Linked DNA regions of Homo sapiens: all the other regions are reported to be linked to region 1. Evidence: microRNA targets listed by miRTarBase, many of them from high-throughput screens and not tested one by one. Region 1 holds a microRNA gene; each other region holds the end of a gene's coding sequence.
What was found. The annotated mature microRNA hsa-miR-6722-5p reads AGGCGCACCCGACCACAUGC and lies in region 1 at 1,240-1,259, shown strand. An mRNA with a match to its seed (bases 2 to 7 or 8) in the 3' UTR can be bound and repressed. Matches are read on the target gene's strand: a 7mer-m8 pairs with bases 2 to 8, a 7mer-A1 pairs with bases 2 to 7 and ends in A, and an 8mer does both.

Region 2: miRTarBase lists PFAS as a target of hsa-miR-6722-5p. The part of its 3' UTR that is shown has no 7-base or 8-base seed match.
Region 3: miRTarBase lists TARS2 as a target of hsa-miR-6722-5p. Seed matches in the 3' UTR shown: 7mer-A1 at 1,937-1,943.

What each region holds. Positions count from the first base shown.
Region 1 is chr9:136,743,641-136,748,199 of GRCh38, reverse strand. It overlaps MIR6722 (microRNA 6722), which reads left to right and starts at 1,230; the gene lies at 1,230-1,307. It overlaps LCN6 (lipocalin 6), which reads left to right. Exons shown (of 7, transcript NM_198946.3): 2 at 637-776; 3 at 2,286-2,356; 4 at 2,920-3,030; 5 at 3,459-3,560; 6 at 3,836-3,861; 7 at 4,058-4,183. The coding sequence ends at 3,538. It overlaps LOC100128593 (a long non-coding RNA gene), which reads right to left and starts at 2,039. Exons shown (of 3, transcript NR_033913.1): 1 at 1,999-2,039; 2 at 1-1,122.
Region 2 is chr17:8,268,244-8,273,865 of GRCh38, reverse strand. It overlaps PFAS (phosphoribosylformylglycinamidine synthase), which reads right to left. Exons shown (of 28, transcript NM_012393.3): 27 at 5,010-5,333; 28 at 3,380-4,912. The coding sequence ends at 4,602. Among named protein-coding and RNA genes, the nearest start is that of RANGRF, 18 kb to the left of the region's middle.
Region 3 is chr1:150,505,587-150,511,208 of GRCh38, forward strand. It overlaps TARS2 (threonyl-tRNA synthetase 2, mitochondrial), which reads left to right. Exons shown (of 18, transcript NM_025150.5): 17 at 5-119; 18 at 1,330-2,016. The coding sequence ends at 1,478. ECM1 (extracellular matrix protein 1) reads left to right here and starts at 2,523. Exons shown (of 10, transcript NM_004425.4): 1 at 2,523-2,693; 2 at 3,945-3,995; 3 at 4,075-4,176; 4 at 4,336-4,416; 5 at 4,516-4,596; 6 at 5,290-5,612. The coding sequence starts at 2,624. RefSeq lists an enhancer at 4,908-5,622.

The DNA.
Region 1 (4,559 bases):
GGAGGGCTGGAGAATTGGAGGCTGGAGACTGGAGGTTGCAGGGCTGGAGGGTGTAGGGTTGGAGAACTGGAGGCTGGAGGGCTGGAGGCTGTAGGGCTGGAGAACTGGAGGCTGGAGGCTGCTGGGCTGGAGGCTGGAGGGCTGTAGAACTGGAGGCTGGAGGGCTGGAGGCTGGAGGGCTGCAGAACTGGAGGCTGGAGGGCTGGAGAGCTGGAGACTAGAGGCTGCAGGGCTGCAGGCTGGAGGTTGGAAGGCTGGAGGGCTGGAGCCTAGAGGCTGTAGGGCTGGAAGGCTGGAGGCTGGAGGGTTGGAGGTCTGGGGGGTTGGAAGCTGGAGGCTGGAGGGCTGGAGAACTGAAGGCTAGAGGCTGCAAGGCTGGAAGGTTGGAGGCTGGAGGGCGGGAGGGTTGGAGACTGGAGGCTGGAGGGCTGGATGGTTGGAGGGTGGAGGCTGGAGGCTGCAGGGCTGGAAGGCTGGAGGCTGGAGGGTTGGAGGCTGGAGGCTGGAGGGCTGGATGGTTGGAGGGTGGAGGCTGAGGCTGGAGGTTTGGAGGCTGGAGGCTGAGGCTGGAGGGTTGGAGGCTGGAGGCTGGAGGCTGGAGGGCTGGCGGCCCTAACGGGAGCCGCCTCAATGCAGCTTCTTGGGCCCTGGTACGTGCTTGCGGTGGCCTCCCGGGAAAAGGGCTTTGCCATGGAGAAGGACATGAAGAACGTCGTGGGGGTGGTGGTGACCCTCACTCCAGAAAACAACCTGCGGACGCTGTCCTCTCAGCACGGGTGAGTGGGCGGGTCCTGCCAGGCCTTCCCGCAGGCAGGACTGTGGCTCAGCCACATCATGTACTTTGCACATCTGCTCCCGGGCACCGCGGCCTGGGGGCTTCCCACGGCCCCTCTGCACCCCCGTCACTTTTCCCACTGGGCTCTGTGCAGAGCCACCAGCCCTCTGCCCAGCTACTCACATCTGTGTCCCTGGGGCCTCCAGGTGGCACTCCCACCTTCAATACCGCGGCGGGCACTGCTCTGACTATGCTCCTTCATGCATCCCTGTCCTGGGTCATCTGGGCTGCAGGCTGTGGTCAGAGCTGGGGAAGCCTGTCCTCTCAGCAGGCCTTTTTCGGGAATTCTGTTTAAAGGAGGATAATGCATTCGGACCTAAGAACCACTGGTTCTTTCATAACATAAATCCCCAAACAATATGGTCATGGACGCTGTTGGCCAGACTGGCCTTGTGGCCTCAGGCAGGCGCACCCGACCACATGCATGGCTGGTGGCGGCGTGCAGGGGTCGGGTGGGCCAGGCTGTGGGGCGGCCGTGCTACACAGGGGACACCTACAGGGCAGCCGGGCTGTGGGGGTAGCCGTGCTGGGGCAGGAGTCGGTGCCCGCCTCCCTTCACAGAAGAGTGGCCTGCTGGGTGGCGTGGTGGGTGTCTACCCCCTGGCAGGCTGGCGACAGAGCCCAGGCCTGAACCACTGAGCCAGGTACGGGGCCCAGAGAGAAGAACCTGCCCTCCTCACCAGCGTGCCTTCCCCCTGCACCTGCGCCTGCAGGGTATGGGCAGGGGCCCCACTGCACCCCCCGGGCCAGGCCTGGCCTCAGGGCGAGCTGGGACCAAGGGGCTCCAGGCTGAGGTGGCAGCTCCCACGTGGCTTTCCTAGTTCTTCTTGCTGTTCCTCCCGCATGGACTCAGCCTCAGTTTCCTTCCTTGGCAAACACCATTGCACCTTTGCTGGGTTTTGCTCACTCTGGGGACTGACCACTTAGGGAGCGCCGGCCCCTTCCCCCGAGTCGCAGGCAAACCCCCACCCCGCCCCATCCTTCCCCTGAGTCGCAGGCGAACCCCCACCCCACCCCATCCTTCCCCTGAGTCACGGGCGAACCCCCACCCCGCCCCATCCTTCCCCTGAGTTGCGGGCGAACCCCCACCCCGCCCCATCCTTCCCCTGAGTCACGGGCGAACCCCCACCCCACCCCATCTTTCCCCCGAGTCGCGGGCGAACCTCCCGTCTGTCGAGTCTCCTGTTGTGTCCTCAGCAGCATTCAGCGTTCCTGGTGGAGATCTGGCACTGAGGATCTCTCAGGAAGTGAATGGGAGTGTCCGCCCCTCTCAGGACTCCCACGCCGTCCACTCTCCGAGAACAGGTTTCCGGGCATCGGGGCATCTGGCAGAAGATGGAAGCTCTGGCCTCACTGCTGGCTGGCCTGGCCTGGACTCCTGAGCTCCGTCTCCTCTCACCGGGCCCCGGGGTCTTGACCCTGAGTGGGTGACAGGCCCCTTCTTTTCCAGGCTGGGAGGGTGTGACCAGAGTGTCATGGACCTGATAAAGCGAAACTCCGGATGGGTGTTTGAGAATCCCTGTGAGTCTGACGGCCACGGCCTCACCCAGGCCGTTCTTCCCTGCAGCATCCCCAGGCCCCCTGCGGGCAGGGACGGAGGGCTGACTCCGCTCCCGAGAGCCAGGAGGCTACAGGTTCTGGTCTTGGGATTGCTGCCCATCCTGAGGGTGAAGAGAAGCCCCTGGACAGAGGATTGGAACCTTGTTCCCAGCAGGCTCAGACACCAGTGAGGTCCAGCCAAGGTCCCCATAGGTGCAGAGGGCGAGGGGCCTGTTTAGTGGCTGTCTACAGGTACAGGGCTGGGCTGGTGTGACCCAGCCGCTCCTCGTTCACACCTGGGACAGGCTGGGGCAGTGCTTGTCTGTCTGTCCGTCAGTGTCTGAAAGCCCCTTGATGCTGGCACCAGGTGGGGTCGGGGGTGGGGGACAAAGCTTGGGGGCTCTGGGTGTGCTTGGAGGGGTCTCCTGGGGAGGGGGGCTCTCACTTGAATTGGCCCCTCTGTCCCTGTGGCCAGCATCAGCTCAGCGGCCCCTGGATGGATACAGCAGCTGCCCTCCCCTGAGGCGGGGGGTTTTGTTTCCTAGCAATAGGCGTGCTGGAGCTCTGGGTGCTGGCCACCAACTTCAGAGACTATGCCATCATCTTCACTCAGCTGGAGTTCGGGGACGAGCCCTTCAACACCGTGGAGCTGTACAGTAAGTGTGCTGTGCGGGGCCCACGTAGGGAGCTGTGTGGTGCGTGGGCCACTCGGGGCCCACGTTGGGAGCTGTGTGGTGCGTGGGCCGCTTGGGGGCCGCGTGGGGAGCTGTGTGGTGAGTGGGCCGCTCGGGGGCCATGTGGGGAGCTGTGTGGTGAGTGGGCCGCTTGGGGCCACATGGGGAGCTGTGTGGTGAGTGGGCCGCTCGGGGGCCATGTGGGGAGCTGTGTGGTGGGTGGGCCGCACAGGACCACATGCAGGCCAAGTTCCCCCACCTTGAGGCTCGCTGCACTGGAGGTGGCTTTGGAAGGACCGGGGCCAGCATCCCAGGGCAGGTGGCCTCCTTCCTGACCCTTCCCAGCCCCTCCCCGGCCCCTCCCCAGCTCTCAGAGGTTGCTTCCCCCTGCACTGCCCTGGTGCCCCCAGGTCTGACGGAGACAGCCAGCCAGGAGGCCATGGGGCTCTTCACCAAGTGGAGCAGGAGCCTGGGCTTCCTGTCACAGTAGCAGGCCCAGCTGCAGAAGGACCGTGAGTGTCCACCGGAGCAGCCTCGGGGGAGGCTTGGGGCAAGTTCTGGAGCCCACAGGGCGTGATGGGGTGACAGAGACCCTGGGGTTGATTCTGGCTTCTGCCTGACTCAGTCGCCCTGAAGGAGTCAGGCAGGCTGAGGGGGTCTTCACCTGCCCCTGCCCAAAGTCAGGCCTGGGGGTCTTGTCCCCACGGCAGGCGAGTCTTGTGGGTGGGGCCCTGGGGTGCTGGGGGGCTCAGTCCTTTTTCACAGCCAGTCTTGCCTCCCCTTCTAGTCACCTGTGCTCACAAGATCCTTCTGGTAAGCCGCCATCCTGAGCCTCACCCTGGGCTCTCTTGGGGGAAGGGGGTGGGGGAGGCCACCCTACGCACAGTGGGTGGGAGGACCCTCTGCCCAAGCCCACGGGGTTCATGGCTCCACTGTCTCTAAGGCAGCTGAGGGTGTGGAGGAGCCTCCATGGTGGGCTGGGCCCCCTCACACTCCTCTTGGTTTTCAGTGAGTGCTGCGTCCCCAGTAGGGATGGCGCCCACAGGGTCCTGTGACCTCGGCCAGTGTCCACCCACCTCGCTCAGCGGCTCCCGGGGCCCAGCACCAGCTCAGAATAAAGCGATTCCACAGCAAACCAAGGATGCTTTTGACTGGGGGCCAGCCGGGGAATTGCGGGGAGGATGGCGGGGGTCGTCACCAAGGGCCAAGCCACAGAACCATAGAGCCAGCTGCAAAGAAGACGCGTGCCCAACCCAGTCCCTTGCCAGAGCCCCTCTGGGTCTTCAGACACCCAAACTCAGGCCCGGGCTCAGAGGCGGGGGCTGGTCAGAGGACACAGCCTGGGAGGAAGCCAGCAGTGAGCTCCACCAGGACCGCAGCTGGGGTGCCAGAGGCTCCAAGGACTGCCCAGGACAAGAGAGAGGTGGCTGGTGGGGCTCAGAGCAGCCCCTGACTCCCCAGGCTCAGGCTTCTCTGGGCTGGGGTTGTGTCTCTTGCCTGGGCAGGGGCAG
Region 2 (5,622 bases), not on the chromosome of region 1:
TGGATAAGGAGGGAAGAAAAGGAGCAATGGATTGGGGTAAAGTAATTATTGCACTGGAGGTCCTAATTACTTTGAAATCTCAGAGTATTGTGGATAAAGAAGAAAGATGGAAGGAAAGGGCCAGGCATGGTGGCTTATGCCTGTCATCCCAGCACTTTGGGAGGCCAAGGTGGGTAGATCACTTGAGGTCAGGAGTTTGAGACCATCCTGGCCAACATGGTGAAACCCCATCTCTACTAAAAATACAAAAACTAGCCAGGTATGGTGGCACATGCCTGTAATCCCAGCTACTTGGGAGGCTGAGGCAGGAGAATCGCTTGAACCCAGGAGGTGGAGGTTGCAGTGAGCTGAGATCGCACCACTGCCCTCCAGTCTGGGCGACAGAGTGAGACTCCATCTCAAAAAGAAAAAAAGTTGGAAGGAAACAGGACACCTGCATAAATAAGTTTGGAGATAGAGCCTTATGGTTGGAAACAGGACGCCTGAATAAATAAGTTTGGAGATAGAGCCGATCCTGGGTGATAAAATCCAAGTGGGATAGTTAGCTGAGGTGGAATGAAGGTCACTGTAGAAAAGTTCAGAGTGTTGGATGGTCACTGACATGGATACAGGATAACAGAAGGGGCTGAAGTGAAGCACAAGACAGGGAACCAGGGCCTAATACCCTTAAAGAATGAGAGCGAGTTAGGAGTGGTTGAATAGGGTAAGGTTTAGTTACAAGGGATGGAAAACACCAAAATTAATAGTGCTTAAACAAGATAGGCTGGCGCTTTGGTTTATGCCTATAATCCCAGCACTGTGGGAGATGGAGGCAGGCAGATCACTTCAGGTCAGGAGTTCAAGAACAGCCTGGCCAACATGGCGAAACCCCGTCTCTACTAAAAATACAAAAATTAGCTGGGCATGGTGGCACGTGCCTGTAATCCCAGCTACTCAGAAGGCTGGGGTGGGAGGATCGCTTAAACCCAGGAGGCAGAGGTTGCAGCAAGCGGAGATCACACCACTGTACTCCAGTATTCCAGCCCGGGAGACAGAGCGAGAGACTCTGTCTCAATGAAAAACAAAAGCAAAAACCAAGACACAAGTTCATTTCCTACACTCAAGACATTCAGTGTTATCTTGTCCTCATGGCACTCCTCAGTGTTGGAAGAACCAGTCTCCTTTGATCTTTTTTTCTTTTTTGAGACAGGATCTGGCTCTGTTGCCCAGGCTGGAGTGCAGTGGTATGATCACAGTTCACTGCAGCCTCAACCACCTGGGCTCAAGTGATCCTCCCACCTTAGCCTCCCAAGTAGATAAGAGGAAGAGCCTTCCTCTTATCTTGTTGCTCTGCATGGTACCAATTCCCAAAGCTACTTCAGTATGGCTACTGAACTTCCAGCTGTCGTGTCTGCATTCCAAACAATAGGAAGCAAGAATGGATAAAGGGGAAAATGTACCCTTCTTGTAAGAACACTTGCAAATTGTATACATCATTTTCTCTACCATTGGCCACAATTTAATCATAACTGGGAGGGAAGCTGGGAGATGTCATCTTTATTTTCAGCAGCCACAACCCCAGCTAAAATACTGGAACATTCTATTTCTTTTTTTTTTTTTTGAGACACAGTCTCACTCTGTCGCCCAGGCTGGAGTGCAGTGGCGCAACGTCCGCTCACTGCAAGCTCCGCCTCCCGGGTTCACGCCATTCTCCTGCCTCAGCCTCCCGAGTAGCTGGGACTACAGGCGCCCGCCACCTCGCCTGGCTAATTTTTTTTGTACTTTTAGTAGAGACGGGGTTTCACTGTGTTAGCCAAGATGGTCTCGATCTCCTGACCTCATGATCTGCCCACCTCGGCCTCCCAAAGTGCTGGGATTACAGGTGTGAGCCACCACGCCCGGCCCTGGAACATTCTATTTCTTTCTTTCTTTTTCTTTTTTTTTTTTTTTTTGGGACAGACTCTGTTGCCCAGGCTGAAGTGCAGTGGCGTGATCTCGGCTCACTGCAACCTCCGCCTCCTGGGTTCAAGCGATTCTTCTGCCTCAGCCTCCCGAGAAGCTGGGATTATTGGCACACACCACCACACCCAGCTAATTTTTGTATTTTTAGTAGAGACGGGGTTCACCATGTTGGCCAGGCTGGTCTCAAACTCAGGTGATCTACCAGCCTTGGCCTCCCAAAGTGTTGGAATTACAGGCATGAGCCACCGCACCTGGCAGGAACATTGTATTTCTAGAGAGGAATCAACTATTGAAGAATTGGCACCTTCTCCCAAAGGAAGCGCTGGGGAAGTCAGTAGAACACAAAGAACTGGATGAAAGGGATGTAGTAGAATGGCATGAGCCTGCAACGGGCAGGGTTTTCTTTGAACTGGGTGAACAGTCTGGCAGTGGTACGAGGACCCCGACTCCCCAGCCTGGGGAAGATGAGATATGTGAGGTTGAGGTTTGAGAAGAAAAGCCACCACTTGGAGGGGCTGCAGAAGTGGCTCTCAGAGGATAGCTGGTTTTCCATGAAGGCAAGGAGGGAGCAGAGAGCTAGCCTGGAAGGTTCACCAGAGGGCCCTTGGGAGTGGGTGAGTGGGAATGGAGCTGGGTGGGGGTCAGCAAGGACAGGGTTATTTGGTTACTGGATGAAAACACGGATGAAAAGCCAGTGGACTTGGTCTTGATAGTGTCTGAGGAGGGTGGGTCTTACTTGGCCACTGCGACCCAAACCAGAAACTGCTCCCCCTTCAAAATCCACGAGTTTACTTATCACAGCCAACCAGGTTACCTCCCATGCCATCCTTTGACTTTTGCATCAAGCACTTAATAAACTTAATATCTAACCCTTGGTACCAGCCCCCAAATTGTATGTTCGATACTATAAATTTGAAAGACATACATATATCCTTTCCAAGGGTCAGGAAAGAACATTCAAATGTCAAAAATGATCCGGAGGAGTCCCATACTGCTCAGGGTAGGTCGCTTTGCAAAGCAATGAGAAAAATCTCTGAAATAGTTGTTTTCCCCATAGCCATCATTTAACATTGTTTCATTATTATCAGTTTTTTCTCAGGGTGGCTACTCTACCAGGAGCACACAGAAGTGCTCAGCGCCCCCACCCAGCTCTCCTAGCCCTCAGGGATCTGGGATTATAGTCTCCATTCTCAGGCAAACTCCTTTTATCAAGATGTTGAACATTCTAGGGAGCCAACTGACTTGAGGTGTACAACAGAACAGTCATGAGGAAGGGACCTCTATCCACAGTCCTGTGAGCAAAGGAAGCAACAGACAGCTGCCAGCACAAAGTCTCAACACACTGCCTCCAGGAAGTAAGACTGCAGGATGGCGGGAAGCAGATGTAGTATGGGTGCGCCCAGCCCCCCTCACCATCTGTGGACCCCAGGCAATGCAGTCAACCTTCATTCATCCTTTATTGAAAAGGCGGGGAGGGGCTATCAAGTCCTTTGCTGAATTTTAGTGAGAATTAATTCAGATACATACCAAATGCCTCACACATGCGTGGCTTGAGCTAAGTGTTATACACAGCTATTATTTTTAATTCTATTACACATAAACTCCCTGAGGCCGGTGACAGTGCTTTGCAATAATAACTAATCAACAACAGTCAATGCAGTAAGTGAAGAGTAGAATTCCAGCATACTAAAGGGTTAGGATCTAGGGATGAGAGCCCCAACCACCTCTATCAGAAACAGAGCTGCTGGGCCAGCTGTAGTGGCTCCCACCTGTAATCCCAGCACTTTGGGAGGCCGAGGCAGGCGAATCACTTGAGGTTAGGAGTTTGAGACCAGCCTGGGAGACATGGTGAAACCCTATCTCTACTAAAAATACAAAAATTAGCTGGGTGTGGTGGTGTGTGCCTGTACTCCCAGCTACTCGGGAGGCTGAGGCAGGAAAATTGCTTGAACCCAGGAGGCAGAGGTTGCAGTGGGCCGAGATCACGCCATTGTACTCCAGCCTGGGTGACAGAGTGAGACTGCCTCAAAAAAAAAAAAAAAAAGAGAGCTGCTAATTTAGAAGCAAATAACAGGAATGCTGGGTTCTGAGGCCAGCCCTAAGACAGCCAGAAACGCTGAGAAACTTCCACAAGCAACAATTCCTTACATTCAGTGCAGTGTAGCACTTCAAGAGAAATCCAGAAAGTTTCAGTTCCAGATGAGAACAATGAGGTGGTGAGGGGCTGATCTGCATACTATTGCTGAATTTGTCTGCACCCGCTAACCCCAATGATGAGAAAAGGGAGCGCAAAACATCCCTCAGAGCCAAGGAGGCAATTGCACACCGGTGATCACTGGGTGTTGTGAAGTGGGCAACAGAAGCCCCTGTTCGGACCTCAGGAGTCCTAACTTTTCCTTGTCGCTCTTTTCTCTGAACCACATGCTGTTTCCTGGGCTGAGAAAGGGCATGCCATGTTAGAGCAGAACTGAAAATAGACACAGCCACAGAAGGAACATCAGCAGGCAGATTATCGAGTCCGCTGAGATTTTGGCATTTTGGTCCTTGTCTGTCCAAGATATTTTTGGAAATAATATGGGGTGCTCCTGAAGGTCATGGGGGAGGGGGCAGGACCCACTTAGGTGAAAAGCCATGGGGCCCAGGTGAGCCCCTGTGGCCAGTCAGCAGCTCCCTTCCAGGGTCCAGTTTCGGGCATTGATAAAGAGCTGGAGCCAGGGGGAGGTGGTCAGAGTATCAAATGGAGGGGGTCGCCATGCCCACTGCCAAGGCCTAACGGCCCGCTCAGGGTGAGGCATGACAGCCAGGTGGCGGCCATCACAGGAGCAGATGCCAGCCACGCCCCCTGGGGACCCATTGGGATTCAGAGGGTACTGCTCTGTGGGGTTCCCGTCATCATCAGCCCAGTGCAGTGGAGCCAAGCCCCTGGCCTCAATCTGAGCTTGGAGTTCCGGAGAAGAAAATGCTACGTAACCTGGGATGGAAGGAGGAGGGAAGTGAGAGCCAAGGTCCTTCATGCCCACCCTTGCCCCCAACCCTCGGGCCCTCCCCCAGCCTTCCTTGGGCCTGACCTTCCCCGTGCGCACTCCACACGGGCAGCACGGCGCCCTCCATCCCTCGCAGCATCAGGGCTGGCCCAGGCCCCACACGCACGCTGGCCCAGCGAGACTCGTAGCGCCCAGACAGGTTGTGGCGTAGCAGAAGGCCTGGCCGGGCTGGCTGGGAGTCAGGGCCCATCTCTGCAGCATCCTCATTGGGGTCGCCTCCCACCCAGCCGAGCAGAGCCAGCAGTTGACAGCCATTACACACGCCCAGGCTGAAGGTGTCTGGCCGCTTCCGGAAGCGCCTCAGCTCAGCCCCAGCCCTGGGATGAAAGGTCACAGCAGCTGCCCACCCTAGCAGGGAATAGGGAAGTCAGGGTGAGACATGGAGGACCTCAAAAAAGGGAATTGGGAATGAAGGGGCATAACTGCTCTGTTTCTTTTCTTTTTTCTTTCTTCCTTTTCCCTCCCTCCCTCCTTCCTTCCTTTCCTTCTTTCTTTTTTTTTTTTTTTTGAGATGGAATCTCATTCTGTCACCCAGGCTGGAGTACAGTGGCATGATCTCGGCTCACTACAACCTCTGCCTCCTGGGTTCAAGCGATTCTCCTGCCTCAGCCTCCCAAGTAGCTGGGATTACAGGCGC
Region 3 (5,622 bases), not on the chromosome of region 1:
GCAGGCACAGCAGAGCCTGCGGGCTGCAGGACTGGTCAGTGACCTGGATGCAGACTCTGGACTGACCCTCAGCCGGAGAATCCGCCGGGCCCAGCTTGCCCACTACAATTTTCAGTTTGGTAAGCTGAACCTCAGAGCCAATGTTCTCCCACCTGCCGTCTGCATTCTTGCTGTTAAGTTTACCAAGTCTGGTAATGCATATTTGGGTTAATTGGGGCTCATTACCTGAGCAGGTAGGAGCCAGGATTCAGGACACCTGACTCATTTGGGCCCTGTGTTCCTTCACATTGCCCTGCCCTCCCCATAACCACTTCTGACACTCAAAATAGTTTTCCTCTTTTTAACTCCACTCTAGCTGTTGGTGTCTGTTAGGTTAATTAACCAAGGGAGCATCAGAGAGAAAGGGACGGGAGGGTTAATACAGCGTTAATTACCCTTGTTTATTTTAGACCTAGATGGAATCAGCCCTAAGGGATGAGGAGAAAGGCCTTAGGGAGAAAATTCTGGCACTGCCATGCTCCCTTTTTCATTTTCCAGGGTTCAGGGCTCTATCTCAAAGGTGAGGAGCAGAAACTCCTCAGCCAGATTACCTGATTCTTGAGTTTTGCACACCCCACTCTCCCTACAAGCACCCAGAGCAAGCTGTGCTGCAATCCCAGGGACTTGTACATGGCCCCTTTCCCTCCCTTACCGCCCAGTCAGCCCCTGCATACATCCTCCTCAGCAGAGGCCCCTCACTCTGTGAATCCAGCCCTAACAGACACCAAGAGCCAGAGTGGGACTGATGAGAGGAAACTGTTCTAAGGGTCAGAGTGGTTGGGGGGAGGCGGGGCAGTGTGAAGGCCACACCACTCCTGCCACCTTCCACTTGCTCTAATACCCCCTTCAGACACGCGCGCGCACACACACACACACACACACACACACACAGTTTCTCTCTGTGGGGTTCTCATTGTTTGTCTTTCTCTGCTTGACTCTAATGTCTCTGACACACACACACACACACACACACACACACACAGTTTCTCTCTGTGGGGTTCTCAGTGTTTGTCTTTCTCTGCTTGACTCTTATGTCTCTGACCCTGGGGCTCTTGACCAGAAGCGATAAGGCCTGCGGGGACTGAAGCACTTCCTTGTCTCCTCAGGATGAGCAGGACTGGTCATTTAGTATTAGCAGACACAGCTGAATACTTCCTTTCTGTGAACCATATCTGGGCTCTGCTCCCACCCTTCCTAAAGATTTAGGTCTCTCAAGTTTCTGCAGAGCAAAAGAAACTGTTCCATGTGGGTGAATTTGCCCTGAGGTTCCCAAACTTCCTCTACCTGCAGTGGTTGGCCAGAAAGAGCAAAGTAAGAGAACAGTGAACATTCGGACTCGAGATAATCGTCGCCTTGGGGAGTGGGACTTGCCTGAGGCTGTGCAGCGACTGGTGGAGCTACAGAACACGAGGGTCCCAAATGCCGAAGAAATTTTCTGAGCCTTTGTACATAGATGAGGCAAAAACCTGCGAGTGCCATCAGCCTCCCTCACATGGGAGACCCCAACCCAGCTGACAATGTGGAGCCCCCAGAACTTCAGAACTGTGTGGAGGCACATGTCTGCTCTCCTGAAAAGAGACTTGGTTTGGGGACCCCACAAAAGGAGGGAAGCTGTAGCTGTTTGGATGTGAGGAGAATGAAACTACAAAAAAAAATAAATTGGGCCAGGCGCAGTGGCTCATGCCTGTAATCCCAGCACTCTGGGAGGCTGAGGCGGACGGATCATGAGGTCAGGAGATCAAGACCACCCTGGCTAACACGGTGAAACCCTGTCTCTACTAAAAATACAAAAAATTAGCCGGGCATGGTGGCACACGCCTGTAATCCCAGCTACTCAGGAGGCTGAGGCAGGAGAATCGCTTGAACCCGGGAGGTAGAGGTTGCAGTGAGCTGAGATTGCGCCACTGCACCCCCCTAGGCGACAGAGCGAGACTCTGTCTCTAAATAAATAAATAAATAAATAAATACAAACTGGAAGCTGCTGGTCATATGTCTTCATCTCTGACTCTGGAGAGGTGGGATAAAAGGATGTTCCACTTTGTCTCCCTCTTTTTTGTCCCAGAGAGTTAGGGAAATTGAAAAGGGACAGTCCAGACCTCACACTGGTAGGGGAGATCCCTTGGATAGGTTTCCTGCTCCCCGCTGTAAACTCCTTTGTGCCCTGTTTCCCCAACCCCAGTTCATGAGTTGGCAGATCCCCTCTCCACAGAAGGCAGCCTGTAGATGGAGAAACTGAGGCACAAACTAGGGGCTCAAACACCTCTTGCTCCTGGATTCTCTGAATCAGTTTCTCTTGAAGGTCATAAGAATGTTCTCCTCTAATCAGTCCCATTCTTCTCAATCCTCTGAGGAGGCTTCAGGGTGACTTTGGGAGGAGTGGCTTCCAGAGGAGGAGCAGCTGGGACTGAGTCATGGCAGGAAGCTGAGGAGGGCGGGAGATCACACCAGACAATTATAAAAGAAGAGCTGGTCCTGAAGCTCACAACCGTAACAGCCACCAGACAAGCTTCAGTGGCCGGCCCTTCACATCCAGACTTGCCTGAGAGGACCCACCTCTGAGTGTCCAGTGGTCAGTTGCCCCAGGATGGGGACCACAGCCAGAGCAGCCTTGGTCTTGACCTATTTGGCTGTTGCTTCTGCTGCCTCTGAGGGAGGTGAGTTGGGGGATCAGCACTTAGGAGGGGGTCTGGGCTTGCATGGCAGGGGTCTGGGTCCAGGCATCCCAGACGGCTCATCACTAGCAGAGTGATTCTCCGTTTGGCTTTCCTTTTCTGAGCAGGCCCAAAGTGGGCCTAGGCCAGTGGAGCCTTTAACCAAGGAGGCAGAGAGCAGGGGCACAGAAGGAGAGGGGTTCCTAGAAACTGCTGCCAAGAAACACAGAATCCCAGTCAAATAGACAACTGAGTGGGGGGTGGGTTCACAGAGTGAGGGTCTCCTGCTGATGAGGATGTAGGGAGGTGGCTGGTGGGAGAGGCAAGGGAGGGAAAAGGGGCCCCCAGGCTGCTCAAAACCGGATTGCTGGCCCAGCAAGCCTCGACTGACTCCCTGTCTGATTAGAGGAGTTGAGGGGTGTCCATCCACAGACCCACCCTCCATCCAGCACAAACACATTCTTTATCTGCTTTGATGCCTGAACAAAACAGGAACCCCTCAATGCTATGGGTGGAAACTAAGAAAAAAAGGAAAAGAAAAGGAAAAAAACCACCCAGGGCACTCCTGCAGGAAGCTGCTGAGGATGTCAGCAAATCTGTCCACTTCTCTGTGAAGCCCCATGCCATCATTCTTCCCAGCTCCTGGTCTTTTGTGTCTGCAGATCACCTACAAGTGACCCTTCCCTGTGCCTGTCCCAGTCCCCCAGGCCCTAAATTGAGACCTAAACTAAGGCGGAGCTGAGACTGGCTGAAGGGGAAGCACTCAACCTTCAGGAAGCCTCCTTAACCAAAGGCCTAAAGATGTTTCAAGGGCCTGGAGTAGGAGGGTGGGTGGAGGAGGTGGATTGGGTAGGCTCCAACCAGCTCAAGGTCCAGACTTTTTCCTCTGAAAGCTAGAGACGCATCCCAGCAGAGACTGGGGAGGACAACCCACAGCCCTGAGGGAAAGACTGGCAGAGGAAATGAGGGCCTCCCTCCCCAATCCCGTATGCCATACTCCCTTTAGGCCCAACCTCTGAGCCAGTAGAGGTGGAGCTATCAGACCGCCACAGGCTTTCTCAGAACCCAGCTGGTCATGTCTAGGTGTGTTGGGGCTGGGAGAGGATTAGGGGACACGGGGCAGGTGAATACAGAGGGGCATCTCGTGTCTTGCTTGTCTGTCCTACACTCTTGATCTCCACAGCCTCCCCATCCCTTGCTGAAGTCCAGGGAAGGCCCTCCCAGTGGCCCCTGACTTGCCCTTCTTCCCTCCAGGCTTCACGGCTACAGGACAGAGGCAGCTGAGGCCAGAGCACTTTCAAGAAGGTAAGAGTTTGGGGGAGCAGCATGGGATTGGGACTCCAGGAGGCACTGTGGGCTCTGATGTCTCCCCTCTTGCTTCTAGTTGGCTACGCAGCTCCCCCCTCCCCACCCCTATCCCGAAGCCTCCCCATGGATCACCCTGACTCCTCTCAGCATGGCCCTCCCTTTGAGGGACAGAGTCAAGGTAAGGTCACCATCCCATGCCCTCCTCAGTGACCCTCCAGGTTTCTAATCTGGCCTATATCCCACTTTTCAGGTGGAAAGGAGGGAAGAGGCCCTCGCCCCCACTCCCAGCCCTGGCTAGGAGAAAGGGTGGGCTGCTCACACATTCCCCCTTCTATAGTGCAGCCCCCTCCCTCTCAGGAGGCCACCCCTCTCCAACAGGAAAAGCTGCTACCTGCCCAACTCCCTGCTGAAAAGGAAGGTGAGCGCTTGCCCACCCTCCCTCACCTCTATCCCACTATGGATCCTGTTGACACCAGGCTGATCCCTGCTCCTTGGTGCCCTCACCCCTATCTTGCAGTGGGTCCCCCTCTCCCTCAGGAAGCTGTCCCCCTCCAAAAAGAGCTGCCCTCTCTCCAGCACCCCAATGAACAGAAGGAAGGTAAGCAGCTCCCTCTCTTCTTTACCCACCTTTACCTCATGGCCTTCCCCCAGAGCATGGGCTTCGGGGCAGACAAGACGGTGGGCTCTGCCACTCACCAGTTGTATAACCTTGGGTAAGTTACATACTTCTCCAAGCCTTTGTTTCTTCATCTGTAAAATTGAGGATATACCTGTTTTAGAAAGTTATGTGATTAGATGTGCAAAAATAGCATCTATTTTCACTTGCTTCTCTGCTGAGTTCTTCTTTGTGCATGTAAACTAGCCAGGCTTTCTCTGCTAGAGATGGCCATCCCAACATGGCTTTTGCTTACTCCTTCTACCCAGTAGACCCACCTCTTCCATATCAGGAGGAGATAATCATCCATTCCATGCCGAGAGAGGGTGAGTGACAGCTTTGGTCTGTCCATCCTCCTGCCTTAGTGCTCAGGACCCTGGGGAGAGGAGCAGGAAGCCCGAGCCTTGAGAAGCAGGAGGAGGTGGGGGCAGGCTGTGAGCTGACACCTTTCACACCTCGCTTCTCTTTTCCTTTCAGTTATTTTAAAAGGAAGAGCCACAAATTGTTCTTTCTCATTTCCACTATATCCTCCCAACCCTTTCTCCTCCACCCCAGATTCTTTCAATCCTCCCAGCTCATCCAGCCTTTGTGGGTTCCTTCACATGTCCCCGCTTCCCACTGTTTTCCCCATTCCAGGAACGCCAGCTCCATTTGGGGACCAGAGCCATCCAGAACCTGAGTCCTGGAATGCAGCCCAGCACTGCCAACAGGACCGGTCCCAAGGGGGCTGGGGCCACCGGCTGGATGGCTTCCCCCCTGGGCGGCCTTCTCCAGACAATCTGAACCAAATCTGCCTTCCTAACCGTCAGCATGTGGTATATGGTCCCTGGAACCTACCACAGTCCAGCTACTCCCACCTCACTCGCCAGGGTGAGACCCTCAATTTCCTGGAGATTGGATATTCCCGCTGCTGCCACTGCCGCAGCCACACAAACCGCCTAGAGTGTGCCAAACTTGTGGTAAGGTTGG